7 linked regions of the Homo sapiens genome follow. The protein of the gene in region 1 purifies or fractionates together with the protein of each later gene. This does not show direct contact. Each region holds a gene or a part of one and is shown in the gene's direction. Other genes may lie near its edges. The genes, in order: CBS, PARP6, UBE3B, CARS1, LRSAM1, TRAP1 and ERO1A.

Region 1 (4,446 bases):
AAAAACAACACCGTTTATCATCTTTCTCTCCCGCAGGCTGGCTGAAGGCTCTGAGGGAGGCCCTGGCCACCTTTCCCAGCCCTGTGGAGGCCGCCAGCCATCCCTGCCATTTCTCGTCTGGTGGCAGCACATCTCATCTCTGCCGCCATCTCCACATGGCCTTTTTCTCTCCGCGTGTCTGTGTCCACGTCTCTCTTCTTATAAAGACTGGACAGGATTTTTTTTTTTTTTTTTTTTTTTTTTTTTTTTTCTGGAGACAGTCTCGCTCAGTCGCACAGGCTGGAGGACAGTGGCGCGATCCCGGCCTCCAATGCCACCTTCCAGAGCCTTCATGATGTAACTCCATCCCTGTCCCCTCCCCACATCGCCGGCTTTATTGTTCTTCGTGTCAGTTCCTGCCAGTGGACATTTAATTCTAATTCACGTCTCACTCCCTCCCCTACTGTGAGCCCCACGTGGCAGAGACCGCGGCGGAGCTGCGCGGGCCGGAGGAGGCTGCGGAGCATCGCTCTGACCTGAGCCGGGGACGCTGCGGAGGCGCAGCACGTTCCTCTGCCCAGAGCTGATGGGCACCGTCCGTGTCTTTCGCTGCAGGTCCGGGGGGAGACTCGGGGGCCTGGGATCCCCCATTTAGCCATAGGGCGGGGGGATCAGGTTCAGCCTCTGAAAGTCCAGAGCACGATGTTTGGGAAACGGCCCCGCCCGCGGCCTCCGGGACCTGGCGAAGGAGCCCCGCGGGGCGCCCCTGCTACCACCCTGCGCGGAGTCGGCCCCGTCCCCGAGAGCGCCCGGCAGCCCCTGGCCGTGGGCCGCACCGGAGCCGCGCAAGGCGACTGTTCTGCGCCTCGGCTCGGGGTTCGGACCCGGCTCTGGGCGCGGTCACGCGGGGCGCTGCGCACGGCGTCCGGCGGCCACAGAGCGCGGCCATCGAGTCCCGCCCCGGCGCGGCGCCCCCTCCCGGGCCCGCGACACACGCCCTCGGGGTCGGTCCTCGAGGACGCGCAGGGCCCCCCACCCACCAGGACGCACGTTTCAAGCTCATCAGTAAAGGTTCCTTAAATTCCCGAAGGGCAAGAAGTTAACCAAGTAAAACAGCATCGGAACACCAGGTAGAAGACACCACCGGGGTCCGCGGGTGGGGGTGGCTGGAACCCGGGGCGGGCGGGCTCAGGCGAAGAGGAAGGCGGGGGAGGGGGCGGCGACCCGGGTCTGCGGTTGAATCAACAGGGCGTGGGAATGGGGCGGGCGGACTGGGGTGGGGGCATGCCGGGGTCCCGGGGAGGGCGGGGGTCGGGCAGGCCGGAGGGTCCCAGGCTGCGGCGGGGTGGGGAAGGGGTGGGGGGGAGGGGCCCGGGCTGGGTGGGGTGGAGGAGGGGCTGGGGGGGCGGGTGCTCTGCCACGAGACATTGGCCGGCGCCGGCCTCCGCCCCCGCCTCTCCGCCAATCACCGCCCGCCTGCTCCCCTCGCCGTGGGTCCCCGCGAGGCCGCCACCCCGGGGTCGCCGTCTCCGCCTCGCCGCAGTCGGGGCAGCCGCTCGCCCCTCTTTTCCATGTATCCGTCCAGGTGAGATCCGGCCCCACCGAGACTCGCTCCCCTCTCTGGACAGAGGATCTCAACTGGGTCCCGGTTTCCCTCTCCGCGCCTCCGCCCAGAGTTGCATCATCTGCACCGAAAGGCGGCGAGACAGGGTCTCCCAAGACCCCCGCCCCACCGGCGCCCACGCCTGCGGTCTTGACCGCCCAGAAGATGGGGGCTGGCCGTGCACGTGGCCCCGGGCTCCCACCCCAGCCCCCGCGCCGGCGGAGTGGACCCCACTGGCGGCGAGTCCTGGAGCGTGGAGCAGGGACGCGGGGTGGGAATCCGGGGGAGATGCACGTTTCGGTGCCCAGCATTGAGTTCGCTGCATTGTGGATGGGAAATGGCTGTTTGCAAATCGCCCTTTTTGGCGGACCGTGTGGGGTGGCGGTAAACGCTGTCGTTGCGCGGGCGGCACGCGAGGTGGGTGCCCGCTGGGGGAGGGACGCGGGGCTCTGCCCAGGTTGCGTTCGGGGGATGGAGGTTTTCCTGGGACCTCACTTCCCTGAGCCCCAGGCGAGACCGCAGCTGAGCTGTAGGATGCAAGCGGGAGGCGGAGCGTGGGTGGGAGAGCGGAGCGCGAAATTCTCGGCTTCCCGAGGATCTTCTGGGCTTACTTGTCCCCAGCTTTGTCCCAAAGTGTCGCTTCCGGAGGCGGAGTGGCCGGCGGTTTCCGGGTCTCAGTAGGGTCTGGATCTCCCACCTGGAAACCTAGAGGAGTTTCCCGCTCTCCGTGCGCGTGGCCTTCCCCAGGCCCCTCCGGGAGTGCTGGCGCGCGAGTGCAGGGGTGCCCCGGGAACGTCGTGACCCCAAGGGGGTCTTGTGGTTTAAGGAGCGAACGGAACCGGCCAGGCGATGCCAGCTGAACCCGCCTTCCCGGGACGCACGTGCATCCGGCCGCCCGGCGCTGTTGTCTTGGGGAGCCCGCGGGTTCGGGTCTGGGTCGCCTGGCGAGCTTTCCGCCGAGCGCCTCTGAGTTCTACAGAGCCCCGACGGCTTGCGATCTGCGTTCCCGGCAGTCCCTTACCTTGCGAGAGAGGGCTCCAGGGCGAGGCGAGGGGCCAAAAGCAAGGCGCTGGGCCGCCTGCGTCTGCCGGGGCCTCGGGTCCACGGCTTTCTGGAAGATTCGGCGGCGGAGCATGCGCGCCCCAGGCCAGACAGGGCCTGTGCCAGACGGAGAGTCCCTTCCCGTAGGTGACTCCCGCGACCCGCGGAGGAAGGTGCTGCTCCGCTCACGGCGGCGGCTTCTTACAAGGTTGGGATAGAAAGAAAAGCGTGGGACACGAACCTCTGAAAGCGGGTGCATTTTTCTGGGGAAGAGAAGATCCAACGCCTTCGGATTTTCAGACAAGTCCGTGGTCCCAAGACCTTGAAAGCACCACCCTCCAGGGTCGTTTGAAGCCGCTTTGGCCCCCAGTCTGGTGAATTGCAAAGGTGGAGGGGAGGCTGGGAAGTCCAGGAGGCCAAGCTGAGGCCTGGGTAGGGCCTGTGCGCAGAGACCACCTGAACAGCATACTCCAAGGGCTTCCAAAGGCAGCCGGCTTCCGCAACTTTTTCTTTTTTAATAGGCTTTTTAAAAAAAAAGCAGTTTTAGGCCGGGCGGGGTGGCTCACTCCTATAATCCCAGCACTTTGAGAGGCTAGGCGGGCGAATCACCTGAGGTCAGGAGTTCGAGACCAGCCTGGCCAACATGGTGAAACTTCGTCTCTACTAAAAATACAAAAATTAGCCGGATGTGGTGGCGGGCGTCTGTAATCCTACTCAGGAGGCTGAGACAGGAGAACTGCTTGAACCCGGGAGGTGGAGGTTGCAGTGAGCCGAGATCGCACCACTGCTCCAGCCTGGGCAACAAGAGGGAGACTCCGTCTCGAAAATTTAAAAAAGAGCAGTTTTAGATTTAGAAAAATTGAAAAAATAGATAGAGTTCCCCCAGTTTCCCCTGTTATTAAGATCTTAAACTGATGTCGTATATTTGTTACTTTATTTATTTTCTTTTATTTTTATTTTTATTTTTATTTTTTGAGACGGAGTCTCGCTCTGTTGCCAGGCTGGAGTGCAGTGGCGCGATCTCGGCTCACTGACCTCCCCCTCCCGGGTTCAAGCGATTCTCCTGCCTCAGCTTCCCGAGTAGCTGGGACTACAGGTGTGCGCCACCATGCTTGGCTAATTTTTGTAGTTTTAGTAGAAACGGGGTTTCACCATGTTGGCCAGGATGGTCTCGATCTCTTGACCTCATGATCCGCCCGCCTCGGCCTCCCAAAGTGCTGGGATTACAGGCGTGAGCCACCGCGCCCGGCCTATTTGTTACAATTAATGAGCCAATTCCACGATCACATAACCATTGTTGACATTAACCAAAGTCCGCGCTTGAGTCAGATTTGCAGAGTTTTCTCCTCACTGCCCTTTTCTATTCCAGGATCCCATGACAGATTCTGTTGTCACGTCTCCTTACAGAGTTTGAGCGGTGCTGAACTGTCAGCACCATCTGTCCGGTGAGTGACGGCTGTGGACTTAGTCTTCCTGTTGAATGTGGGGAATCAAAGGAGGGTGAAGCGGGGCTGAGCCCAGTCCTGGGCCCTCTGAAGAAGGCAAGGTGGGAGGTGGTCGTGGGTTCCTTGTCCCCCCAGAGGAGGGGCAGCAGATGGGACCTCGCCTGGCTTTCTTTTTGCTTTCTTCTTTTTTTTTTCTGTCTCATCTATTTCAGGTGCGTGTGTGTGTTTTTAATCCTGGGTAAAATACACGTAACACTGATCACTGTAACCATTTCTAAGTGTGAGGCAACCACCGTGACTATCTCCACCCAGAACGTTTTCATCATCCCCAGCACAACCTCTGCACCCATTAAACAATCACCCTCCCTTCCCCACTCA
Region 2 (4,006 bases), on another chromosome or scaffold:
AGTCTTGGCTCACTGCAACCTCTGCCTCCGTAGGTCAAGTGATTCTCCTGCCTCAGCCTCCTGAGTAGCTGGGATTACAGGCGTGCACCACCATGCCTTGCTAATGTTTTTATTTTAGTGGAGAAGGAGTTTCACCATGTTGGCCATGCTGGTCTCGAACTCCTGACCTCAGGTGTCCTGCCCACCTGGGCCTCACAAAGTGCTAGGATTACAGGCATGAGCCTCAGTGCCTGGCCATTTCTGGAGTTTCTAATTCAGTAGGTCTTAGGAGGAGTCTGAGAATTTGCATTTCTAACAAGTTCCTAGATGATACTGATGCTGTAGGTCCACCAACCCCAGTCAGAGAATCACTAATCTGGAAACCTGACATTCAGTAGAACTGTATTAGAGACCTGCCAGGCACAGTGGCTCACATCTGTAATCCCAACACTTTGGGAGGCCGAGGCGGGTGGATCACCTGAGGTCAGGAGTTCGAGACCAGCCTGGCCAACCTGGTGAAACCCCGTCTCTACTAAAAATACAAAAATTAGCTGGGCATGGTGGCGGGCGCCTATAATCCCAGCTACGTGGGAGGCTGAGACAGGAGAATTGCTTGAACCCGGGAGGCAGAGGTTGCAGTGAGCCGAGATCGCACCATTGCACTCCAGCCTGGGCGACACAGCGAAACTCTGTCAGAAAACAAAAAAAGAAGAAGAAGAAGAACTGTGTTAGAGACCAAGAACACCTCTGTTTGAGGTTGGAGTAGCTTCAGCTGCGATGTGTGCAAAGCCAGTGACTTGCTGGTCTAGAGAGCAACAGAAAGCTTTTTTAGCCTGCTTTTAGGGTAGATTTGCCATCTTCAGCCATTAAAGCCTTCATAATTTCACAGATGAGTTTTTTGTTTTGTTTTGTTTTTCTGCTATATGTGGAGGTTTTAATGGAGCTAAAAGTTGCTGGTATAGGATTAGGAGTCTGTGGGATTAGAAGCGAGCAGGGAATTGTGTATGAAAGGGCTCTGGGTTAAGTAAAAGTTTTTCTAAGCAATTTTTGGGATAATTATTGCATTTTTCTTTGGGAAGCAGGTTCCAAGATGACTTTAGGGCATTATTTTGGCAATGACAACTGAGACCATAACTGCCAAAAGATGTTCAGTGTTGTTGAGGACTTTTTATTTTGAGATGGAGTTTTTGCTCTTACTGTCCAGGCTGGAGTGCAGTGGCGTGATCTAGGCTCACTGCAATCTCCGCCTCCCGGATTCAAGCGATTCTCCTGCCTCAGCCTCCTGAGTAGCTGGGATCGTAAGCGCACGCCACCACACCCAGCTAAGTTTGTATTTTTGGTAGAGACGGGGTTTCACCCCATTGGTCAGGCTGGTCTTGAACTCCTGACCTCAGGTGATCTGGCCGTTGAGGACTTTTTAAGTTAGCTATTGTTGCCGTATAATAGCTAGTAATACTGATGTTTAAAGAGAGATACTGGCTAATATGGAGAAATAACTAAGAATAAAGAGTCCAGAAATAATCCGATTCTGAATCTTAACTCTGGTGTGAGTTGGTACTCTGAAGAATTAACTGACAGAGTAAACATAAGCATCTTGTCCTGCCACCATCACTTTTGGCTTTAGGAGTTGTAACATTATGAGCTAGAGCAGGATCTTGCTCTAATCCCAGCTCTCCAGTTTAAGTAGAACAGCAGTATCTTGCATATAGTGCTTTTGTGTTTCATTATCTATAAAGAACTGCATGTGCAAGTGTGCATGTATATGCACGCAAGCATGTCTTTTTATATGCAAGTATCTGTATGTATAATAAAAGTGTATTAATAGCCAGGTGCAATGGCTCACGCCTGTATTCCCAGCAATTTGGGAGGCCGAGGCCGGTAGGTCACCTGAAGTCGGGAGTTCGAGACCAGCCTGGCCAATGTGGTGAAACCCCATCTCTACTGAAAATATTAAAATTAGCTGGGCGTGGCAGCAGGCACCTGTAATTCCAGCTACTTGGGAGGCTGAGGCATGAGAATTACTTGAACCCAGGAGGCGGAGGTTGCAGTGAGCCAAGATCGCGCCATTGCACTCCAGCCTGGGCGACAAGAGCGAAACTCTGTCTCAAAAAAAAAAAGTGTATTGATAAATACGTGTGCCTGTATATATACACCACCCAGCTATTAAGTGGTGATGAAACCCATTATTATCTACTTTCCACAGGACAGTGACTTGTTACCACCGCAACAGCAGAGCCTGCCATCCCCAACAGATCACCAGTTGTCCCTGACATCGTGCCCTACCTTGTCTCCCTTTGTGGTCTCCTAAATGCCCATCTCGTTGGCCTTGGTTCGGCTAGTGGTATGGAGGGGTGCTGCCTAGCACTGACCTGAGAGTGTGTGTGACCCACTGACCCAATGGTGAGAACTGACTGCCCACCTCTCCAACTGATTGTTCAAAGGGTAGAGGAGACAAAGTGCAGATCTCACCCTTTCTTGGTATTTTCCCTTCTACCCTTTTGGAAGATAGAGTGGCTATTTGAAGTTAAAGGAAAGGGAAGGGGCACAGAAACAGTATTACTTGGTGTGTTTGTGTAGTGGGTTTTCTTGGGGAGGGAGAGGAGAGTTAAGTACTTTAAAGGATAGAAAGAAAATAATGAGACAAGAGAGTTTAGGTGTGCTTGGGAACTGTCTTAGGTAATGATCCTGGAAGAGGCCAGCTTGTACTGGAACCCAGATATGCTTAGGAGTCAACCTTGACATTGAAGTCATTTGCATTTCTTTCCTACTGGCTACCAGAGCCTCTCAGTCATCATACTGAGACTTCAGAAGGCCAAAATTCCCTAGATGTTTTCCTCTGTCCCACTAAGAGCTAGTTTATGGATATGATCATATCAGGAAGAGACTGAGACTCTCACAAAGGGTGACATGAAAGGTGTAAAGGGATCAGGGCTTCAGTTATTCTATATTTCCCAATCTTTGTGGGAATCTGTTCCTCACCATATCATCCCACGCCTTTCCATGGGATAATAGGGACCTAACAAAGCATGATATCCTTATTTCTCACCACTAGGACATCAAAGGCCAGTTCTGGAATGATGACGACTCGGAGGGAGATAATGAATCAGAGGAATTTCTCTATGGCGTTCAGGTGAGGTTACATCTCCCAAGACCCCCGTGTTGGATGGTCTAGATATGTGCTGCTTTTTGGATACATCAGGAGTGAAAGAGGTTCTGGAGCACAGATGAGATGAGGTTATAATGTTGATGTGGTCTGAGCATGGTCTTGTCAGAGCTGATCCCGTGCCCTTGCTCTTTCTTTGGAGTCATACCTGTTCCAGAGTAAACTACATCCTCTGTATGTGGAGACTACCCATATCTTAATTAGACATAATTATTTTCTGACTTTTATAACACTAGCCAGTGGGGGTAGTTTCATTCATTAGGGTCACATCTTAAAAGATTACTCTGCCAGCGTTTGCTTAATGCCATCACTACCCAGGGCACAGTCCTGAGCAGAAGTACCCAGACTCTCAGAATGCTCTTCACTTAGAACCAATCTTAGGAAACCTGTAACTCTTCAGCCTGTTCTGAGTTGTCATAGAAGGTATCCTGGTCAAGGTCTGAGAGAAAAGCTGGAGATTTAAGGAAGTGAACTCCAAGCAAAAGCCTACATTTGGTCTGCTGAACCTTTTTAAAGTCATGATGAGATGGAGACCTCTGTTAATGAAATCCCTTGCTAGGGTCACCACTGAGAACCCCTTCACATAAGTGGCTTTTACTTCCCCTATACTGCTGTCTGATTTCTCCTGTTCCTGGTGTCTTTTCATATTCTTTTTATTATCTCTCTCTTTCCCTCGTCTTTTTCCACCTCTCTCCACCACCATTTTTGCTGCTATCTCAGGGGAGCTGTGCAGCTGACCTGTATCGACACCCACAGCTTGATGCAGACATTGAAGCCGTGAAGGAGATCTACAGTGAGAACTCTGTATCCATCAGGTGGGACTCTACTTCAGGGGTGGCAGGGGAGCAAGTCACTTCTTTCTGA
Region 3 (4,006 bases), on another chromosome or scaffold:
ATGTCTGTCTTAGGCTTTAGGCAAAGTCCCTTTTCCTCTTTACTTTCCACTGGAGAAGGGGAGAGGGTTGTTCATTGTTATCCCAGTTGTCGTAATCTGGTGGCTTGGTTATTAGAATATGAGAGCCCAGGGGCCTTTGCTGGATTTGGACACAAGGGGGCGTCAGTAAGCTGATCTCAGACTCATGCTCTCCTGGGCATTGTTTCCTTTTTTATGGTTAGTATTGAGGGCTATGCTTCTCTATTAGGCTTCCAGATATTAAAGTCCTGTAGGAAGGCTCTTCTTCCCAGAGGGTGAGTTTGGGCTGGAACTCTAGTATTCAGAACCGGAAGGATCCTCAAACATACTCTTACCCAGTCCTTTCCCCTGTCTCTGTCAAAGGCAGAACTGAGGCCAGAGAACTTCAGTCAAGGTCACTTGGATATCAGTGATAGAGCTGGGCCTGGAAGCCAGGCATCCCTTTTCTAGCTCAGTATTCCCTGTGTGTGCATGTTGAGATGCAGTGAAGAAGAGGAACGCTGACTCACATTCACCTCCCAAGAGGCATGGATATAATCCTCGCATATCCACGCCAGTTCCCAGAAGGCAGGAAATGTATCACAAGAGGCAGTCCCCTCTAAACGTTTAAACAAAGAGGCTGGTGTGGAGCTGATCAAGCAAGACTGAGATTTGAATCCAGTAAACGCTCCTTGAGCTAGGCCATGTGCCACTTGCTTTCACATGTACCATCCCATTTCATCCACATAACCACAAACGCATCTACTAATGCGTGTGAAGGCTGGGGAGGCATAATTTTAAAGCAGGTTGGAGGAACTCCTGCAGGCAGACAGGAACTTGATGGAATTCTCCATCCGTTCTCATCTCAGTGCCAAGATAATTATCTTAAATTTAGGCAGAATGGTTTAAATGCTGTTACAGCTGCCTGTTGACTTCCTGTTTCTCCCTTTTGTCATCTAACTTAATGATTCTCAAACTTTATGTACATAAAAAGTCCTTCTCAGGTTTGCCTCCACAAAACTGTGCTCCTGTTCCCACATGTGACTTAGGGGTCTTGAGAGGTAATTTTCCCTTGCCCACTAACTTTGAAGCCTAACCCCTGAATCGGGGCACCATAGGATAGTCCTTTGGGGATCACTGGGTGAACATGGCAGGAAGGCAGCAAGGGTTCCCCAAAACAGGTCTCGCCACACTGGCATACTGCTCGTTTGCTTTGTGATGAGGGGACCAGACGGCAGCCGAGTGGATGCTGTGGAGACAGCCTGTCTAACCTGCGAAGCATGTGACAGTGTTACAGTTGTAGCTGAAAGGGAGAAATGTGGCATGGCCTTCATAGGACAGCAGGGTTGATTGGTCACTTGTTCCATCACAGTGTCTGAAGACATCAGTTTCACCTGGTGATTGGGCCTCTCAAGTCGGGCCAACAGACTCTTCCCTGGGCCCTGTGCTGTTCAGCACTGTTTTTATAGTCACTGCTCTGAAATAAAAACCTCAGCACCCCAAGTACTAGGAATGCATTAGATGATGGAACCAGAAGCCAGGAAGGCCTCAACAGATTAGAATCAAGAGACAAACTAAACAGATGATTTAGTAGGAGAACTCCAAAGTTGTGGTTCTGGGGCTGTGCATGTTGAGGTCTGGATGGAGTAGATGTGCTGAATGGCTGTGTCCTAACAGAGCTGACCACCAGCCAGAAGTCCAGGCCCAGCACCACCCCCACATCTCGGTCTCTGCTCCCTGCGTTGATCCCTGCCATCCACCTGCTCTGCTGCCAATAGAAAGATCTGACAGAAAGTCAGCCCTGTTACTCTTTGCCTAAAACCTTCTGCAGCTCCCATTACCTTCAGGATGTCCCCTAAATTCCTCAGCATGACTTGCAGGCACTTCATGATTGGGAAGGCAGCGGGAGATGAGGGGTGATGGGTAATTCTTTTCATTTTACAGTGTTCTGTAGGTTTGATTTTTTTTTTTTTTCTTTTTTCTTTTTTTTACCATGAGCTAAAGATACTCTTAGCATTGAGAGAGAGAGAAATGTATCTTGTCCCGGTTTCTTTCATCCTTTGTCTGATGGCCAGGAGCTTGTCATGACTCATTTTGTCTAACTTCCCCATCTCACTGCTCTGTCCCCTTGAGGTCAGTCTCCCCTTGCCAAGGAGTGATACTGTCACATCCCCAAATGAATCTTTGCTTTTAATCAGCACTCATTCAAAAGCAGGTGAGAACGGCTCCTGTCATGCATCCACGTTTCATAATTTGCACATTTGGTAATGATGCTGGGAGAGCTTCGCACAGAGGAGAGGGAACCCCGAATTGTGTGCATAAGGCTTTGGGCTTCCTAATGGGCTGTAATTCTGCTCTTGGCAGGACGGCTACGAGCAGCTTAGGCAGCTCTCCCAGCACGCCATGAAGGGGGTCATCCGTGTGAAGTTTGTCAATGACCTCGGGGTGGACGAAGCAGGGATTGATCAAGACGGTGTTTTTAAGGAGTTCTTGGAAGAGATCATCAAGAGAGTTTTTGACCCAGCACTCAATCTGTTCAAGGTATTTAAGGGGAGCAACAGCAGGGCTGACAGCAGCCAGATTCAAGAAGTGAAGAGCTGGGCTTGCTCCTTGCAAGGCACTTGACCTCTGCCTCTCCCCGTCTTTTTGCCTTGCAGACAACCAGTGGGGATGAGAGGCTGTACCCCTCACCCACATCCTACATCCATGAGAATTACCTGCAGCTCTTCGAGTTTGTGGGGAAGATGCTGGGGAAGGCTGTGTATGAGGTAGGAACGTTAAGAAACAGAGAAATGTAAAATAAAATGTTAACGGTACCATGGGCTTCTTCACATACACATATGTGATCAGGCTTGGCCATGTAAACTGTCACTAGGATACAAGCGAGGACAGGGGCAGGAACCAAGGTTTGTTGTACACCAGTGCTAGGTACTTTGCCTGTGGCATCTCATCTCATCCCATCGACAGCCCTGTGACGGGGCTGCCACTGTCCTGGCTATTTAAGGATGGGAGACCTGAAGCTTTGAGGAGTCACCTGTCCAGAGTTTCGTTGCTAGTTAAGTGGTAGAGGTGGAATTTGAACCCAGGCCGGCCCAAGTCCTAAGGCCAGCCCTCTTCTTTCCTGAGGCATGAGGAGTGGTGTGCAGAGCCAGATGGCCACACGGAGGCTGGGTCCCCGTTGTAGGAGGGCAGCATTTTGTGGAGTTTGATAGTTTTAAAATCTTGTGTTGTTTGAGTGAGTGCTTCCCAGCCATGGCAACAGGACAGGACCAGCTGTTCCTAGTCAGCCGTGTGACCATGTGCCTTCAAGTTTCTTTAGTTTTTAAGCCGTGTTCTCGCATCAGTAAAGTGGAGATAAGAAAAGCCACATTCCTGGGTTGCCGTTAATGGTAAGTGAGGAGGGCCTTCTACGGTGCCCAGCCAGCTGCTCACACCAGGTGGATCGGAGCAGTCATCCTCACCTTACTAAGAGGAAGTGAGTCTGGGTTTCCACTCTGTGGCCTGATGGGGTCAGGGTGATGTGGCCCACACAGCTCCTGTCCATTGAAACCCCGTCCATTGAAAGCCAAGGTGGGACCACCTTCAGTGGGAAGTCACCGCCTGTTCCTTGGGAGAGTCCTGTTTCCCAGGAGGAAGGAAAGCTGCAGCACAAGCCCAGCCAGTCTGTGTGGCCTTCGCAGTGGGCTCCAGAGCTGCAGGGACCCTGCCTGGGTCTCAGGCTCTGCTGAGCTTCTGGCCCAAGCACGGAGGAAGCGAGCCACCTGGGCAGCACTCCTCGCATACCCCAGGAACCTGGAGAAGCCAGATGCTTTCCAAACAGAAAGAGCCAGCAGCTGGGCCAAGCTGAGAGGGAGGTCTCAGGGCCAAACTCCTTTCACTCTCGAATAATCCATTGTTCTCTCTGTCTGGAAACAGTCTATGTGCACCGGCCTCAGTCCCTGGCCATGATGGAATCAGGTGGCCCATCTGAGCCCCTGCCCAAACACCATCCAGTCTTCCTTGTGCCCTC
Region 4 (4,006 bases), on another chromosome or scaffold:
TCGCCCAGCCTTCCCTTAGTCTTTTCATGTGCGGGATTTAACGCTTGTTCCAATAAAGTTCAGAGGATGTAAGGGCCATCAACTTGGAGTGATAAGTGATAAAGGCCTGGACAAGCGGGTAGGCTGGTCAGTCACTGTGTGTTCGGCTTTCTCCAGGGTCGTCCGGGCTGGCATATCGAGTGCTCGGCCATGGCAGGCACCCTCCTAGGGGCTTCGATGGACATTCACGGAGGTGGGTTCGACCTCCGGTTCCCCCACCATGACAATGAGCTGGCACAGTCGGAGGTAGGTGAAAACAGAGTCCCCTTGTCAGGTGCAAGAGCACAGTGTTCATACTGCAGTGGAGGAAAAGTCAGCCCAGGCCTCAGAAGGGCCTCTCTCACTAGAACTTGACACCTTCATCGGGGCTTGTGGGTGGAATCTGAACCCTGATCATTTAGTGTGGTTTCCGCATTGACAGCCTGGCCTTTGGCAACAGACTAGCCTGGATTTGAACCAGTTGTGTTACCTGCTGGCTTATTAACCTGGGCTGTCCTTCCAAGCCCTGCCTGCACCACCTGGAAAACGCAGCTCCTGCCTGTGGACAGCACCAACAAGGCAGCAGACAGTGCAGGTGGCAGGAGGCGGCCCCAGTAACACATGACTGTTGACATCCTTTGTCTCTTTCCACGCAGGCCTACTTTGAAAACGACTGCTGGGTCAGGTACTTCCTGCACACAGGCCACCTGACCATTGCAGGCTGCAAAATGTCAAAGTCACTAAAAAACTTCATCACCATTAAAGATGCCTTGAAAAAGCACTCAGGTATACACTGGCTTCTCCCACAGACCCCCCAACCACCTTCTCATACATGTGTAATGGCTGTAGCACTCGGGAGAATAAGGGCGTTGGCTGTCTTGTGTCCCCCCACAGCACGGCAGTTGCGGCTGGCCTTCCTCATGCACTCGTGGAAGGACACCCTGGACTACTCCAGCAACACCATGGAGTCAGCGCTTCAATATGAGAAGTTCTTGAATGTGAGTCCCCAGCCCCTTCCTGGAGGTTGGTGGAGCAGCCTCCCCTGCACAGTGGGCACCTTGTGCAGTGGTGATAGGTGCACCAGCCTCCCGATGTCTCTAATGGAGACCAGCACATGGGTGGAAGCACCTCCATGCTAGTGGGTATAACAGGCTCGGGGCCACTCCTGAAATGGCTGACGGCTCAGCAGAGTGGACAGAGGCCTCGTCCTCCTAGTCACTGCAGTGCACGTCCTTCTGACTTGTACTTTCCACCAAATGAGCATCTGTAAACCTAAAGCAAGAGCATGTTTCTGTCAAAGAAATATCTTTTCCTTTCTTTCTGACCACTTGTGTAATTCTGGTCTTTCAGATTTTTACCAAAAATAAAATCACAGCAGTAGAAAGTTGTAACAGATATTTCAGGATGGAAAAGTTGCCTAAATGCTGTTAAACTGATTTTTCTAACTTCAGGAGTTTTTCTTAAATGTGAAAGATATCCTTCGCGCTCCTGTTGACATCACTGGTCAGTTTGAGAAGTGGGGAGAAGAAGAAGCAGAACTGAATAAGAAGTAAGGTGGTGCCATTTCTTTGGGGTTTTTGAGCATGCCCATGTTCTATGCCTAGCCTCGCATCTTGGCCACCATGTGTCCTGGACTGTCGAGGAAGGGCTGGGGACACTGTCGTACGTTGTGCAGAATTAATTCAGGATAGGCGGCTCTGCTAATGGGAGCTGCTCTGGGTGTTGAAGTGCATGGAGAATTTCTTTTTTGTTTTTTCTTTTTGAGACGGAGTTTCGCCCTTGTTGCCCAGGCTGGAGTGCAGTGGCGTGATCTCGGCTCACCACAACCTCCACCTCCCGGGTTCGAGCGATTCTCCTGCCTCAGCCTCCCGAGTAGCTGGGGTTACAGGCATGCGCCACCATACCTGGCTAATTTCAGATTTTTAGTAGAGGTGGGGGTCTCTCCATGTTTGTCAGGCTGGTCTCGAACTCCCGACCTCAGGTGATCCGCCCACCTCAGCCTCCCAAAGTGCTGGGATTATAGGCGTGAGCCACTGCGCCTGGCCACATGGGGAATTTCTATGGTGTGTTTTCAGGTCTGACTTCACATTCCTTCCTCTTTGTTGCTCAGCTTTTATGACAAGAAGACAGCAATTCACAAAGCCCTCTGTGACAATGTTGACACCCGCACCGTCATGGAAGAGATGCGGGCCTTGGTCAGTCAGTGCAACCTCTATATGGCAGCCCGGAAAGCCGTGAGGAAGAGGCCCAACCAGGCTCTGCTGGAGAACATCGCCCTGTACCTCACCCATATGCTGAAGGTAAGCCAGGCCCCAGGCAGGCGTATCCCTCAGCCTGTGTGGACACAGGAGCCAGGCCCCAGGACTGGGAGAACAGAGGCCTCTGGTGCCCCCCAGTGCTGTGCCTGGTGCCCAGCACCTCTGAGACGTGGAGATATGCTTCTGTCCTCTTTGGTTCCTGGTGTGCTTTTCACGCGTTAGAAATAACACCCATAAGCGGAGCACAGTGGCTCACATCTATAATCCAACACTGTGGGAGGCCAGGTGAGTGTATCACCTGAGCCCAGGAGTTCAAAACCAGCCTGGACAACATAGTGAGATCCCGGGTCTATAAAATATATTAAAAATTAGCCAGGTGTGGTGGCACACACCTGTTTTCCAGCTGCTTGGGAGGCTGAGGTGAGGGGCTCGCTTGAGCCCAGGAGGTTGAATAGTGAGGTGTGATTGCACTACTGCACTCCACTCTGGGCAATAGAGGGGAGACCCTGTCTCAAAACCAGACAAAAATAAGTAACATCCATATAGTTGTCCTTACTCAGAGCTATTTCTTTCCTTTGACTCCGTTTCCCTCTACTCCCATCTTGGAGTTTGAAAAGCAAAACCACGCCAGGCGCTGTGGCTCACGCCTGTAATCCCAGCACTTTGGGAGGCCAAGGCGGGCGGATCACAAGGTCAGGAGATGGAGACCATCCTGACTAACACGGTGAAACCCCGTCTCTACTAAAAAAAATACAAAAAACTAGCCAGGCATGGTGGCGGGTTCCTGTAGTTCCAGCTACTCGGGAGGCTGAGGCAGGAGAATGGCATGAACCCAGGAGGCAGAGCTTGCAGTGAGCCAAGATTGCGCCATTGCACTCCAGCCTGGGCGACAGAGTGAGATTCCATCTCAAAAAAAAAAAAAAAAGAGAAGCAAAACCAGGGACAAGGCCTCCTCTCTGAACACATCCTGTGCAGAGCCCTTCCCCGCAGTGCACCTTGAAAGGCCAGCAGGGCCTGGACTCAACTCCCCTCCCCTCTCCTCCTCTTTCCTTGTTGTTGGGCTCCAGTGGCTTCTGGCTGAAACAGAGCTGGAGAGGGTAGCTGTGAGTCAGGGCCATCCTGGAGCAATGAGGGCACCCTCAGGCTCGGGTTTCTGGGGCTCCTGGAGCTGCTGCTTCCATCTCTTTCCTGGTCTTGGGGCACCCCCTCCCGTGAACGAGGAACACAGCTCACAGCTGCTCGCCACATGCCGCCTTCATCTTGCCGCAGCTTCAGGTCCCATCTGTTTCTTTTCCTAGATCTTTGGGGCCGTAGAAGAGGACAGCTCCCTGGGATTCCCGGTCGGAGGGCCTGGAACCAGCCTCAGTGTGAGTAGCATGCAGGGTCCTGCCTTCTGCACCTGCTCCCTCCCCACTCCCTACCCCTCTGTGTCCCTCTGAACTGCCCCTCCTCTGTCTGCCCACCCACACCAGACCCTTCCGGACAGCGCCTCGAGCTAAATGGCAATTCTGGCTCTGAGAGTGCTAAGTGTGGTCAGCTGCCCTGCCGGTGTGGAGGGTCTGCTTTGGTTGTGACTGTTGGTTTGGGGCACTTTGCCATTGTGCTGTCCCATGAGCTTGGTCTTGGACCCCAACTACATAGGCCGCTGCTTATTTGCATTTTGCTGCGGCCACTTGGCATCATGAACACACATGACTTCGTCACATATACTGACCTGTATTCAGTAAATG
Region 5 (3,500 bases), on another chromosome or scaffold:
TCCATAGATATGGAGGGTACCTGTGTGTGCACATGTATAAATATTTCTCCAAGGCCTTTTTTGTGCATTTTCATTTTTAAAAAATTAGCAGTCAGTCGTGGTGGCTCACACCCATAATCCTAGCACTTTGGGAGGCCAAGGCGGGTGGGTCACTTGAGGTCAGGAGTTCAAGACCAGCCTGGCCAACATGGTGAAACCCCGTCTCTACTAAAAATACAAAAAATTAGCCGGGCGCGGTGGCGGGCGCCTGTAGTCCCAGCTACTCGGGAGGCTGAGGCAGGAGAATGGCGTGAACCCGGGAAGCGGAGCTTGCAGTGAGCCGAGATTGCGCCACTGCAGTCCGCAGTCCGGCGTGGGCGACAGAGCGAGACTTCGTCTCAAAAACAAAACAAAACAAAACAAAACAAAACAAAAAAAAACACCAGCAGAGCATGTTGGCTTGTGCTTGTAATCCCAGCTACTTGGGAGGCTGAGGCACGAGAATCACTTGAACCCAGGAGGTGGAGGTTGCAGTGAGCTGAGGTCGTGCCACTGCACTCCAGCCTGGGTGACAGAGTGAGACTCTGTCTCAAAATAAAACAAAATAAAATAAAATTAAATTAAAAATTAGCAAGTACAGTTAAGCAAAGGGGGAAACATCTATAATTTTACACTGTGGAGTACCACTGTCAATATTTTATCGCATATTTGAAAGTCTTACATATTTATACAATGGAGTGTTTCTTTTTAACATATTAGTATCTAGGCATACTGTTTTATAGCATAGTTTTTCAGTTAACAGTAAAAATAAATATACATAAAATAAGAAAATGGTATAATGGTTTGAGAAGGAAAATGAGGCGGGAATGATCAACACTGAGTGGGAAAGGAGTGGCAGGCACTCTGTTTCTGCACTGGGGGTGTGAGGTGGCCCCAGCCCCTCCTCAGCGCTCTGGAGCCCGGAGTCTGAGGGACTTTCTCACTTGGAGACTCACAGGGGTCTTTCTTCTGCAGGTTCTAGATCTCCACGATAATCAGCTGACAGCCCTTCCTGACGATCTGGGGCAGCTGACTGCCCTCCAGGTAAGGCTGCAGAAACAGAAACCCACCTCGGATGGCCTTAGTGAGACCAGGCAGTCACTCAAGCCTGGAATGTTCTGGCCGGGCTCCAGCCAGTGGAAGCAGGCTGCAATCAGTGCCAGCTCCACCCTCCCCTTGGCCCTTTGGGGTTTTTTTTTTTTTTTTTGAGGCAGTGCCTCACTGCGTTGCCCAGGCTGGGGTGCAGTGGCGCCATCAGAGTTGCAGAGGCAACCTCTGCCTCCCGAGTTCAAGCGATTCTCCTGCCTCAGCCTCCCTAGTAGCTGGGATTACAGGTGTGTGCCACCACTCCCAGCTAGTTTTTGTATTTTTAGTAGAGATGGTGTTTCGCCTTGTTGGCCTGACTGGTCTCAAACTCCTGACCTCAAGTTATCCACTCACTTTGGCCTCCCAAAGTGCTGGGATTACAGGTGTGAGCCACCACGCCTGACCAATTGTACCACTTTGAGCCACAATAAATACCTTGGTGTAGGACTTTTTGTATGTGTATTTTTTTTTTCTCACTCTTGTCACCCAGGCTGGAGTGCAGTGGCACCATCTCAACTCACTGCAACATCTGCCTCCCGGGTTCAAGAGATTCTCATGCCTCAGCCTCCTGAGTATCTGGGATTACAGGCACACGCCACCACACCTGGACAATTTTTGTATTTTCAGTAGAGACTTGTTTTCACCATGTTGGCCAGGCTGACCTCAAACTCCTGGCCTCAGGTGATCCACCCGTCTTGGCCTCCCAAAGTGCTGGAATTACAGGCATGAGCCACTGCACCTGGCCAGTAGGTGTATTTTTATAGAATTGCTGCATTCACTAATTTGTAACTTTTGGATACCTGACAATAACTCATAGCATCCTTTGGTTCATCAAATATTCATCTTATTATTTTTAATGGCTACTTAGCTTTCCATTGCATCATTTTTTGTTTGTTTGTATTTTTGAGATAGAGTCTCGCTCTATCACCAGGCTGGAGTGCAGTGGTGTGATCTCGGCTCACTGCAATCTCCACCTCCCGGGTTCAAGCGATTCCCCTGCCTCAGCCTCCTAAGTAGCTGGAATTACAGGCGCCCACCACTATGCCTGGCTAATTTTTTATATTTTAGTAGAGACGGGGTTTCACCATGTTCACCAGGATGGTCTCAATCTCCTGATCTCATGATCCACCCACCTCAGCCTCCCAAAGTGCTGGGATTACAGGTGTTAGCCACCGTGCCTGGCCCCCATTGCATCTATTTTTAATGGTTAGTGTGTCATCCTGCTAGCCTTGCTCACCTCGAGGTACCACCTTCTGGAGGGAGCACAGCTTCGGAATCCAACAAGCCCTGGTTCAGTCCCAGCACCACTGCCGGCCTGAGGCCTTGGGTGGATCACACGGCCTTAGGGCAGCCTTTTCCTTAAGGCCAGGGGAACTAGAGCCTCCTGTGCTGCCTCCCCAGATCCCCAAGTCTGTAGTCCCCTTCTCCCTCCTTCCCTGATGGTGGGGCAGTTACTGAGCATTTTGTGGTCGGTGTAAGTGCTGGAACCTCAGCCAGAAGGGGTTCAAGGCCTGGCTGTGCTCTCCTGAGCACGTGACTTTGCCACCCTGAGCTTCAGTTTTTTTCCTGTCTCCAGCGGAAACAAGAATTTCTGTCTTCCTCAAGGGCCGGTAGGGGGAGATAAGAGCTTGTGTGTGTAGTGCCTGGGTGCCCTGGCCCGGCAGGGCGAGGGGTGCGGGGGTCATCACTGTGGTCTGTGTGTGGGTTCTCGTGTCACCTCTTCCTGTTTCTTTCTTTTTTTTTTTTTTTTTTTTTTTTTTGAGACGGAGTCTCACTCTGTTGCCCAGGCCGGAGTGCAATGGTGCAATCTCAGCTCACCGCAACCTCTGCCTCCTGGGTTCAAGCAATTCTCCTGCCTCAGCCTCCCGAGTAGCTGGGACTACAGGTGTGTGCCACCATGCCCAGCTAATTTTTGTATTTTTAGTAGAGATGGGATTTCACTATGTTGGCCAGGCTGGTCTTGAACTCTTGACCTTGTGATCCACCTGCCTCGGCCTCCCAAAGTGCTGGGATTACAGGCATAAGCCACTGCGCCTGGCTGCCTCTTCCTCTTTCTTAGGTCTTAAACGTGGAAAGGAATCAACTGATGCAGCTCCCACGTTCCATTGGGAACCTGACCCAGCTCCAGACTCTCAATGTTAAAGGTAGGGACCAAGAAGCCGTGTCCGTGTGACCCTCCATCAGCTCTGGGCCATCCTGGCCGGGATCCACAGGCTGCCCCGCCCGGGAGCCATTGAGCAGGAGGGCAGCCAGTCTCCGGGGGTCGCTGTAAATGGACTGACCCCTGCTGGGTCAGCTGTCTTCATGGTAACCAGAGACAGGCTGTCTGGAGGGTTCCTGTGGCTCCTGAGAGCCAGGGCCGTATGGCCGTATGGGGAGGAGGGCAGCTGGGCCCC
Region 6 (4,006 bases), on another chromosome or scaffold:
TCTTTGCCTGCCTTAGTTCTGGAGTGTTTGAAATCGCCGAAGCTTCGGGAGTTAGAACCGGGACAAAAATCATCATCCACCTGAAATCCGACTGCAAGGAGTTTTCCAGCGAGGCCCGGGTGCGAGGTGAGCGGGAGCCCGGGCCCAGGCTCACTCTGGGATCCATGTGTGGCCTGGAGGCCACCAGGTCAGCAGGCATTTTCCCTGGTTCTACCTGCACGTAGGGTGCACAGGCAGAGCCGTGAAGGGCCGAGCCGCTGCGGGACTGGGAGGGGGGCTGCCCGCCAGGGCTGCGTAGCATCGAGCTCCTGCTGGGACTGGGAGGAAGCTGGCCTGGCTGAGGCGGACCTCCTCCTCCTTCCTCTGCGTGGCCCTTGGCCTTTAGTGCACCTGGGGGTTTGGCGCAGTCCTGTCCCAGGATGTGGGCGTGGCCTTCCCTCTTTGTGTCCTGCTGGACACTCAGGGAGGCCCTGAGTACCCCCAGGAGTCAGCCCAGAAAGCCATGTTCCAGCCACAAGCTGACATTGCAGTCTCGCAGCAGCCGGGGCCTCCACAGCTCTGGTTCTCACGTGGGCTCCGCTGCTGCCCCCGTGAGACTGGGGGGAGGACAGGTGTCCCCACTGTGCCCTGTTTCTGTACCTGTGAAGTGTACACAGCATGGAGGACCCTTCCCAGCAGGCTGGCGCTCATCCTGGAGCTGCTGCAAAGCTTGCGTTTCCACAAGCATTGTAGATGCAGTGTGGTTTTTCTTTTGTCCCTTCCAGATGTGGTAACGAAGTACAGCAACTTCGTCAGCTTCCCCTTGTACTTGAATGGAAGGCGGATGAACACCTTGCAGGTGAGCCCTGAGTTCCTCTAGGGACTGGTCAAACATGGAGACAAATCTGTACGTTTCAGGGCAGCGGAGAAGAGATGAGCCCAGGGGATGCGGCCCAGAGTCACAGGGCGAGCTGCTCTGTGGAGATGAGACCTGGGTGTGGGGATGAGACAGGGGCCCAGCTCTACCACAGCCCTGCCCCTGTGCACCGGGCAGCCGGGGTCAGGGGTCAGGGTTCACTGAGGCGTAACGCCCATCCCAGCTGGCTCACCACATCAGTGTGCAGCCATGGTGTTCAGTGCAGCCACAGAGCTGTGCAGCCACCCCGCATCAATTCCAGAACATCCCATCACCCCAAAAAGCAGCCCTTTCCCCACTGCCCCTCCCCCAGTCCCAGCAGCCACGGTCTCCTTTCTGTCCATTGTGCTGCCTGTTCCAGACGTTTCTCCTGGATGGAGTCACACGGCATGCTGTCCTCAGTGACTGACTTCCCCCTCGCGGCTCAGCTGCGGTGCAGCGTGGGTCGTCATCGCTCTCACGGCCCACACTGTATTCGTCAGCTCGCCCCTGCTGGGCAGCGTCATCCTCTCCCACAGGCCCCCTCAGGTCCCGGCTGGTCCTCCTGACATGTTGTCCTGAGGAGCTCCTGCCCCAGAGCCTTGTGTGTCTCCCCTGCACTACCCGGCATAGCCCAGCGGTGGGGCTGGAGAGGGGTCTACGCCTGAGACCACCGCCCGTCTGTCCCAGGAGCCTGTCCAGGGCCAGGCGCTGCACTGGCTCAGGCCTGCACGGTGGTGGAGAAGACGTGCGTGGTGAACACGACGCCCTCCCCGCCGATCTCCGTTTCCAGGCCATCTGGATGATGGACCCCAAGGATGTCCGTGAGTGGCAACATGAGGAGTTCTACCGCTACGTCGCGCAGGCTCACGACAAGCCCCGCTACACCCTGCACTATAAGACGGACGCACCGCTCAACATCCGCAGCATCTTCTACGTGCCCGACATGGTGAGGCACTGTGGCAGTCCCACGGCCCTCAGGGTGACTCTGTTGTCCCCTGTGGCATCAGCTCTGCAGATGTCACATGATTAACATGGCAGTGTGAGGGCATGAAAAACATAGGTAGTGCTGGGTGTGGTGGCTCACGCCTGTTATCCCAGCACTTTGGGAGGCTGAGGAGGGTGGATCACCTGAGCCCAGGAGTTGCAGACCAGGCTGGCCAACATAGTGAGACCCCATCTCTGAAAAAAAAGAAAAAAAGAACAGATGCCTCTGGGTGGGTAACCACAGAGGTTTCCTCTGTCTCAGGGGTCACACATGGCGAGGGAAGGATTGATGGGCATCTCAGTGCAGGCTGGGGTGGAGGCTTGTGGACTGGGGTGTGCCTGGGGAGGGCCCTCAGAGCCTACATCATCTGCTGTGGATCAGTGGATGCTGTCCTGCCAGGCGCTCTGGGAAGGGCCTGTGGTCTTGCCTCTCCGTTGGCCTCTCTGTGTGCTTCCTCCACACCCTCCACCTCCCCTGGTTTCCTTTACCACATTGAAGTTCCCGCAAATCCTGCCGTAAGGAGACCTATTCGGGGCTGAGAGCCAGCCCGTCCTGCCCCCAGGCTCTTCTGTCCTTGGCTGCCTGGAAACTCTCCTAATGTCCTGCACAGCTGGCATCCATCTTGGAAAGAGCCAGCCAGGTGTGGCCTCCAGGGGCTTGTTAGAGTCTCAGGCCCCACCCAGGGCTCCTGCGTGGGAGCCCACATTTTAATAAGATCTCCCCGCATTTTAACCGGATCCCCCCCATTTTAACCAGGTCGCCCCACATTTTAACCAGGTCTCCCAACATTTGAACTAGATACCCGCCGCATTTTAACCAGATCCCGTGATGAGGTGTGGGTCCCGGTTCGGGAAGTACCAGTGTGGAGCAGGTGTTGGCAGGCACGTTCCACGAGGGCCAGACAGGAGCTGGTCCCAGCGTTTCGGGCCCGGTGTCTTTCGTAGCCACTAACCCTGCCGGGTGAGGAAGCAGCACTGCCCTGCTGCCCTCTGAGCACACAGGGCCGGGTCCCATGAGCTGCGTAGACACTGAAATTTGAGTTTCATCTTCACGTCTCATGAGATCATCCTTTTTGAAATCTTTCCTCAACTGTTTGAAAGTGTAAAAACCACTCTTAGGCTACACAGAGGTAGGCAGTGAGCTGGATCTGGTCGGAGGGCTCTTTGCTGATCCCTGACCTGTAGCAAGGTTTGGCTGTGTTCAGTGTGTTCAGGGGTACGTGCAAGGTTCACTCTCTTGTGTCCTCCTTAGGGGGTGGGCTGGGGAGGGCGGCAGCTGCCAGAGAAGGCCTTCAGCCCCTGCAGAGCCACAGTGTGGGGCATCGTGGGGCCCCTGCACTGGGCTTCAACTCAGAGCAGACGCTGGGGGAGGGCGAGGCGGGAGTGGGCTCTGGATTCATCGTGTCCGCCCCCACCTCCCAGCCAGGGCCTGCCTGGGGAGGGTCAGTGCTGCATGATGGCGTGTTCTCCTCACCCCCAGAAACCGTCCATGTTTGATGTGAGCCGGGAGCTGGGCTCCAGCGTTGCACTGTACAGCCGCAAAGTCCTCATCCAGACCAAGGCCACGGACATCCTGCCCAAGTGGCTGCGCTTCATCCGAGGTACGCTGCTCAGAGTCCGTGAGCAGTGCCCCCGTGGCCCAGTGTCGCCCGCTGCATCTGTGAGGGACCGTGCTGATTCCATTCTCAGCAGCCCTCTGCAGCGAGAGCACCGCCGTCGGCCTGCGCTGCCTGTGTGTCAGTCGCGTTTACAGACCCCGGGAGCTGCCCCACCTCCCTACGCACATGACTGATCTGGGGGGAGCACTGGGGTGTTCAGATTGAGGTCTTTCCATATGTAGGGATACTGAGTTTCAGATTGATATGTGAGTTGTGTTACGTTTGAGTGAGATTATAGTTTAAGAAAGACTTCAGTATTTAAGCCTTGGTACACAGAGGTGCGAACCATCCCTGATAGAGTTTTGTTTGTTTGTTTTTTGAGACGAGTCTTGCTCTGTCACCCAGGCTGGAGTGCGGTGGTGCAATCGTGGCTCACTGCAACCTCCTTAAGTGATTCTCCTGCCTTAGCCTCCCGAGTAGCTGGGATTACAGGCGCCCGCCACCACACCCGGCTAATTTTTGTATTTTTAGTAGAGATGGGGTTTCA
Region 7 (4,006 bases), on another chromosome or scaffold:
TTTCCTGGCATTTACCTGAATGGGAAAAGATTGACCTGATTGAATATTAGGCAGTAAAAATTCACTCTTAAATGGTAGTAATCAGAAAGGTGGGAACTGTAGATACAATTGAACAGTTTAACATACTCTTAGCTCTCTTCACCTTCTTTTAAGAAGCTGCTCAAAATTGTCCATATCACTTTGGAAATATTCTTGTTTTCTTGTGGGAATTTAAATAGTTCCTAACAGCACAGTTTGCTATTTGATAGATATTGTTGTATCAGAACCTTTTTATTTGTGTGCTCGTATCAGGCCTGGAGTTTAAATGGGTAAAAGCCTTTCCTGCTGCTGTTGATGCCTTAATACTGTTGAAAATGAGACTGTGGTTGATTTTCATCAGTACCATATTTCTTCTGGAATTAAAGTATCACACTCTGAGAAACAAAATATAGAAACTTCCATTTTATTCATTGATTGATTGCTTGATTGATTGAGACAGGGTCTCACTCTATTGCCCACTCTAGTGTGCGATGGCCAAAACTGGGGCTTAGCCTGGGAGGGCACTTGGCTTTGCCCAGGAAAAAGTTTGAACCTCTCCTCATGAAGGAGAGCTGTCCCATAGGCAGTGTGCCCAGAGTAGCAGCTTGGAGGCAGTTCTGCAGCCATATTTATAGTCCACTTTTTATTATATGCAAATTATGAGGCAGATTATGCAGAAATTTCTAGGAAAAGGGTAGTAACTTCTGGGTCATTGCTATGGAAAGGGGTGGTAACTTCTGCATGTTGCCATGGGAATGAGAAACTGACATGGCACCCTGGTGGGTGTGCCTCATGGAAAGCTGCTTCAGCCCCCTCCCTGTTTTAGCTAGTTTTCAATTTGGTCCAGTGTCCTGAGTCCCACCTCCTGAGCCAAGTCCTACCTTCTACCTCATGACTACAGGAGCATGCCACCATGTCCAGCTAATTTTTCACAATATTTTTTGTAGAGACAAGATTTGGCCATGTTGCCCAGGCTGGTCTTGAACTCCTGAGCTCAAGTGATTTGCCCATCTTGGCCTCCCAGAGTACTGGGATTATAGCCGTGAGCTACTGTGCCTAGCCGTAACTTTGATTTTAAATGGCGGTTTAAACTCATTAGTAATTTTACTGTTTTTTTTTTTTTTTTTTTGAGACAGAGTCTTGTTCTGTCACCCAGGCTGGAGTGCAGTGGTGTGATCTTGGCTCACTGTGACCTCTGCCTCCTGGGTTCAAGTGATTCTCCTGCCTCAGCCTCCTGAGTAGCTGGGACCACAGGTGCATGCCACCACACCCAGCTAATTTTTTGTATTTTTAGTAGAGACGGGGTTTCACCATGTTGGCCAGGCTGGTCTCGAATTCCTGACCTCAGGTGATCCACCCGCCTTGGCCTCCCAAAGTGCTGGGATTACAGGCTTCAGCCACTGCACCTGGCCTAAACTCATTAGTAATTTTAGATCATCATTTTCAAATTGTGTGTTTAGGTTTTATGAATATGTTTATATTCAGAAGTTTGACTATTATTTTTTTTCATCTTTAAAAAAGGAAATTTTATTATTTTCCATCACATGAATGAACTTGGAGGACATTATATTTGTCAAAATGAGCCAGACACAAAGATTATTATTTCATGATTTCACTTACAAAGGGATTCTAAAAAACTTAATCTTATTGAAGTAGAGAGTAAAGTGGTGGCCACCAGACACCAAGGTATTTAGGAGACAGGAGGGTTTGAAAAGATGTTGATCAAAAAATACATAATTATAGTTAATAGAAGTTCAAGAGATATTTTTGTACAGCGTAGTGACTATAGATCAAAATAATGTATTTGTAGTTTTGAAAAATGCTGACAATGTCACTTGCTCTTGCCACAGAAATGTTAACTATGTGGCGTAATTACCTAGAATTAAGCATTTAACAATGTATATATACTTCCAAACATTATGTTTTACAAAATAAATATACATTTATTGATTACAGATGGTAATGGTATGAAAGCCACTGAAAGGGCAGGCGTTGCTTATGGTCTTATGACTGGCCACTTTGTGAACACAATAAACAAGTTTGCATTAAAAAAACCCAGAAAATGGTTTAATCTAAAAGTTGCCATGATCTTCAGAATTTTTCCAGAGAAAATGACCAAGAAGTTGACTACAGTTAGGTGACTAAGAATATAAGCTGTAGACACCTTCACCCACTAAAAAAAAAAATCACATAAAATAAGAGTGAGAAATTCCTCTGAGTTGTAATATCAATATGGAAAAGAAATATTATTCCAGATTTCAAATCCACAGAGATCATTTTATTATTTTGCAGCCTTTAACATTCACACTTAAAAATAAAAGATTCTACATGGAAACATGTGCTGTAAGTGTATCATAGAACATTAAATTTAAAATTATTCACTTACCATTAACTCTCCTAATACTTTAATTTCTATGATATATTTTCTAGCAAATTAGATAGATGTCACACTTTGTGTAAGAATTTTTTTTTTTTTGAGACAGAGTCTTGCTCTGTCGCCCAGGCTGGAGTGCAGTGGTGCAATCTTGGCTCACTACAACATCTGCCTCCAGGATTCAAGCAATTCTCCTGCCTCAGCCTCCTGAGTAACTGGGATTACAGGCATGTGCCACCACGCCCGGCTGATTTTTGTATTTTTAGTAGAGGTGGGGTTTCACCATGTTGGTAAGGCTGGTCTCAAACTCCTGACCTCGTGATCCACCTGCCTCGGCCTCCCAAAGTGCTGGGATTACAGTTGTGAGCCACCACGCCTGGCCTGTGTAAGAATTTAATAAGATTTTCCTTTTACAAACAGAGAAAAACAATGCTAAGTTACTTAATCCTCTCACCTGTGGACAGGTTTGCCTTTTATCTTAACTGATTTGAAAGTTATATTGATAAGCAAACTCTCTAGTTAAAACCAATTTTTGAATGCATTAAATAAATACCAACTTTCTCATCAAAACCTACAAAGTACCATGTAAAATGACATGGCATGAAGACAACAGTGAGAAAACTGTAGCCATCACATAGAAAAAGAAGGAGAAGGGCTGTGATGAATACACAGTTAGAAGACACATAATAGGACAAACAAAACTAAAGATAACTAGGAAATAAACAGAATTTCTCTTAAAATTCAGCAAGATTTAGCTTTGCAGCATGGAAAAATGTTATCTCCACATGAAGAATCAATCTTATTTCTTCACTATTGATATTTTCCTTCTCTGACTTGAACTTACAAACTAACTGTAGCAGGAATATTTATGGCTTATCATGGAGCATCCGTTACACAGCAAGTACTGTGTGTTTGTTTGCTACATTTATATATAAAAAACATCCTCATGACTTCTGAAGCATCCCTAGTTCTTACCTGAACAAATTGGCTCAATAAACATATAAATTTACTTATGTCAATTATAATGAGAATAAAATAAGTAAAAAAAAATACAGGCTTATGTAGAATTCTTTAATTAAAAGAACAAATGGAATGTCCTAATTAAATGAAATGTAATACACAATTTTGGAAATACATCTAAAAATTGTTTTGTGTGCACTACTATATTTTATAAAAATCATTCTTATTAGTCATGACCAGCTCACATAATACCTCATAAACTATAAAAGAAAAAAATTATAAGAGACAAGAAAATTATAAGTCTAGCATGAGAACCAGGCAAAGAAAAACAGAAAATGTTCATGGGGAGATTCTGAATCATAAGTCAGAAGATTTTACAGTAATGAATTTAATAAAAAGCAGAGTATAGATTTGCTTTCAGCATTTTTGAGGTTTTCAGTTTTCTAGTAAATTTGTCACCTTATTAAGATATTTGTTTTGTTCCAATATTGCTCTATTCTTCTGAAAACAGGTATAAACTCATACTCACCCAAACACACTTACTCTATAATTTTCTTGCACCTAAGGTCTATTTTTAGAGTAATATATGTGCATAGCTAACTCTATGTAAATCAGAACTAAAATTCTGTATGTTTGCAGGCAGAGAGACCACAT

The links.
Region 2: the proteins of CBS (region 1) and PARP6 fractionate together in Homo sapiens (co-fractionation; one large-scale study listed by BioGRID). This does not show direct contact.
Region 3: the proteins of CBS (region 1) and UBE3B fractionate together in Homo sapiens (co-fractionation; one large-scale study listed by BioGRID). This does not show direct contact.
Region 4: the proteins of CBS (region 1) and CARS1 fractionate together in Homo sapiens (co-fractionation; one large-scale study listed by BioGRID). This does not show direct contact.
Region 5: the proteins of CBS (region 1) and LRSAM1 fractionate together in Homo sapiens (co-fractionation; one large-scale study listed by BioGRID). This does not show direct contact.
Region 6: the proteins of CBS (region 1) and TRAP1 purify together in Homo sapiens (affinity purification with mass spectrometry, with the first as the bait; one large-scale study listed by BioGRID). This does not show direct contact.
Region 7: the proteins of CBS (region 1) and ERO1A fractionate together in Homo sapiens (co-fractionation; one large-scale study listed by BioGRID). This does not show direct contact.

Annotation. Positions count from the first base shown.
Region 1 is NC_000021.9:43,072,888-43,077,333, reverse strand, and holds the start of CBS (cystathionine beta-synthase), read left to right. Parts: upstream 1-1,498; 5' UTR 1,499-1,564; exon of another isoform or gene 1,565-2,831; intron 2,832-3,992; 5' UTR 3,993-4,068; intron 4,069-4,446. UniProt on the Homo sapiens protein: Hydro-lyase catalyzing the first step of the transsulfuration pathway, where the hydroxyl group of L-serine is displaced by L-homocysteine in a beta-replacement reaction to form L-cystathionine, the precursor of L-cysteine.
Region 2 is NC_000015.10:72,265,848-72,269,853, reverse strand, and holds part of PARP6 (protein mono-ADP-ribosyltransferase PARP6), read left to right. Parts: intron 1-2,182; 5' UTR 2,183-2,376; coding exon 2,377-2,379; intron 2,380-3,031; coding exon 3,032-3,109; intron 3,110-3,862; coding exon 3,863-3,957; intron 3,958-4,006. UniProt on the Homo sapiens protein: Mono-ADP-ribosyltransferase that mediates mono-ADP-ribosylation of target proteins.
Region 3 is NC_000012.12:109,518,787-109,522,792, forward strand, and holds part of UBE3B (ubiquitin-protein ligase E3B), read left to right. Parts: intron 1-2,361; coding exon 2,362-2,538; intron 2,539-2,654; coding exon 2,655-2,765; intron 2,766-4,006. UniProt on the Homo sapiens protein: E3 ubiquitin-protein ligase which accepts ubiquitin from an E2 ubiquitin-conjugating enzyme in the form of a thioester and then directly transfers the ubiquitin to targeted substrates.
Region 4 is NC_000011.10:3,015,418-3,019,423, reverse strand, and holds part of CARS1 (cysteine--tRNA ligase, cytoplasmic), read left to right. Parts: intron 1-156; coding exon 157-285; intron 286-674; coding exon 675-804; intron 805-883; coding exon of another isoform or gene 884-912; coding exon 913-1,016; intron 1,017-1,469; coding exon 1,470-1,567; exon of another isoform or gene 1,568-1,568; intron 1,569-2,128; coding exon 2,129-2,318; intron 2,319-3,574; coding exon 3,575-3,643; intron 3,644-4,006. UniProt on the Homo sapiens protein: Catalyzes the ATP-dependent ligation of cysteine to tRNA(Cys).
Region 5 is NC_000009.12:127,458,010-127,461,509, forward strand, and holds part of LRSAM1 (E3 ubiquitin-protein ligase LRSAM1), read left to right. Parts: intron 1-993; coding exon 994-1,062; intron 1,063-3,163; coding exon 3,164-3,248; intron 3,249-3,500.
Region 6 is NC_000016.10:3,672,156-3,676,161, reverse strand, and holds part of TRAP1 (heat shock protein 75 kDa, mitochondrial isoform 1 precursor), read left to right. Parts: exon of another isoform or gene 1-16; coding exon 17-126; exon of another isoform or gene 127-764; coding exon 765-838; exon of another isoform or gene 839-1,667; coding exon 1,668-1,823; intron 1,824-3,341; coding exon 3,342-3,462; intron 3,463-4,006.
Region 7 is NC_000014.9:52,653,853-52,657,858, reverse strand, and holds part of ERO1A (ERO1-like protein alpha isoform 2 precursor), read left to right. Parts: intron 1-4,006. UniProt on the Homo sapiens protein: Oxidoreductase involved in disulfide bond formation in the endoplasmic reticulum. Efficiently reoxidizes P4HB/PDI, the enzyme catalyzing protein disulfide formation, in order to allow P4HB to sustain additional rounds of disulfide formation.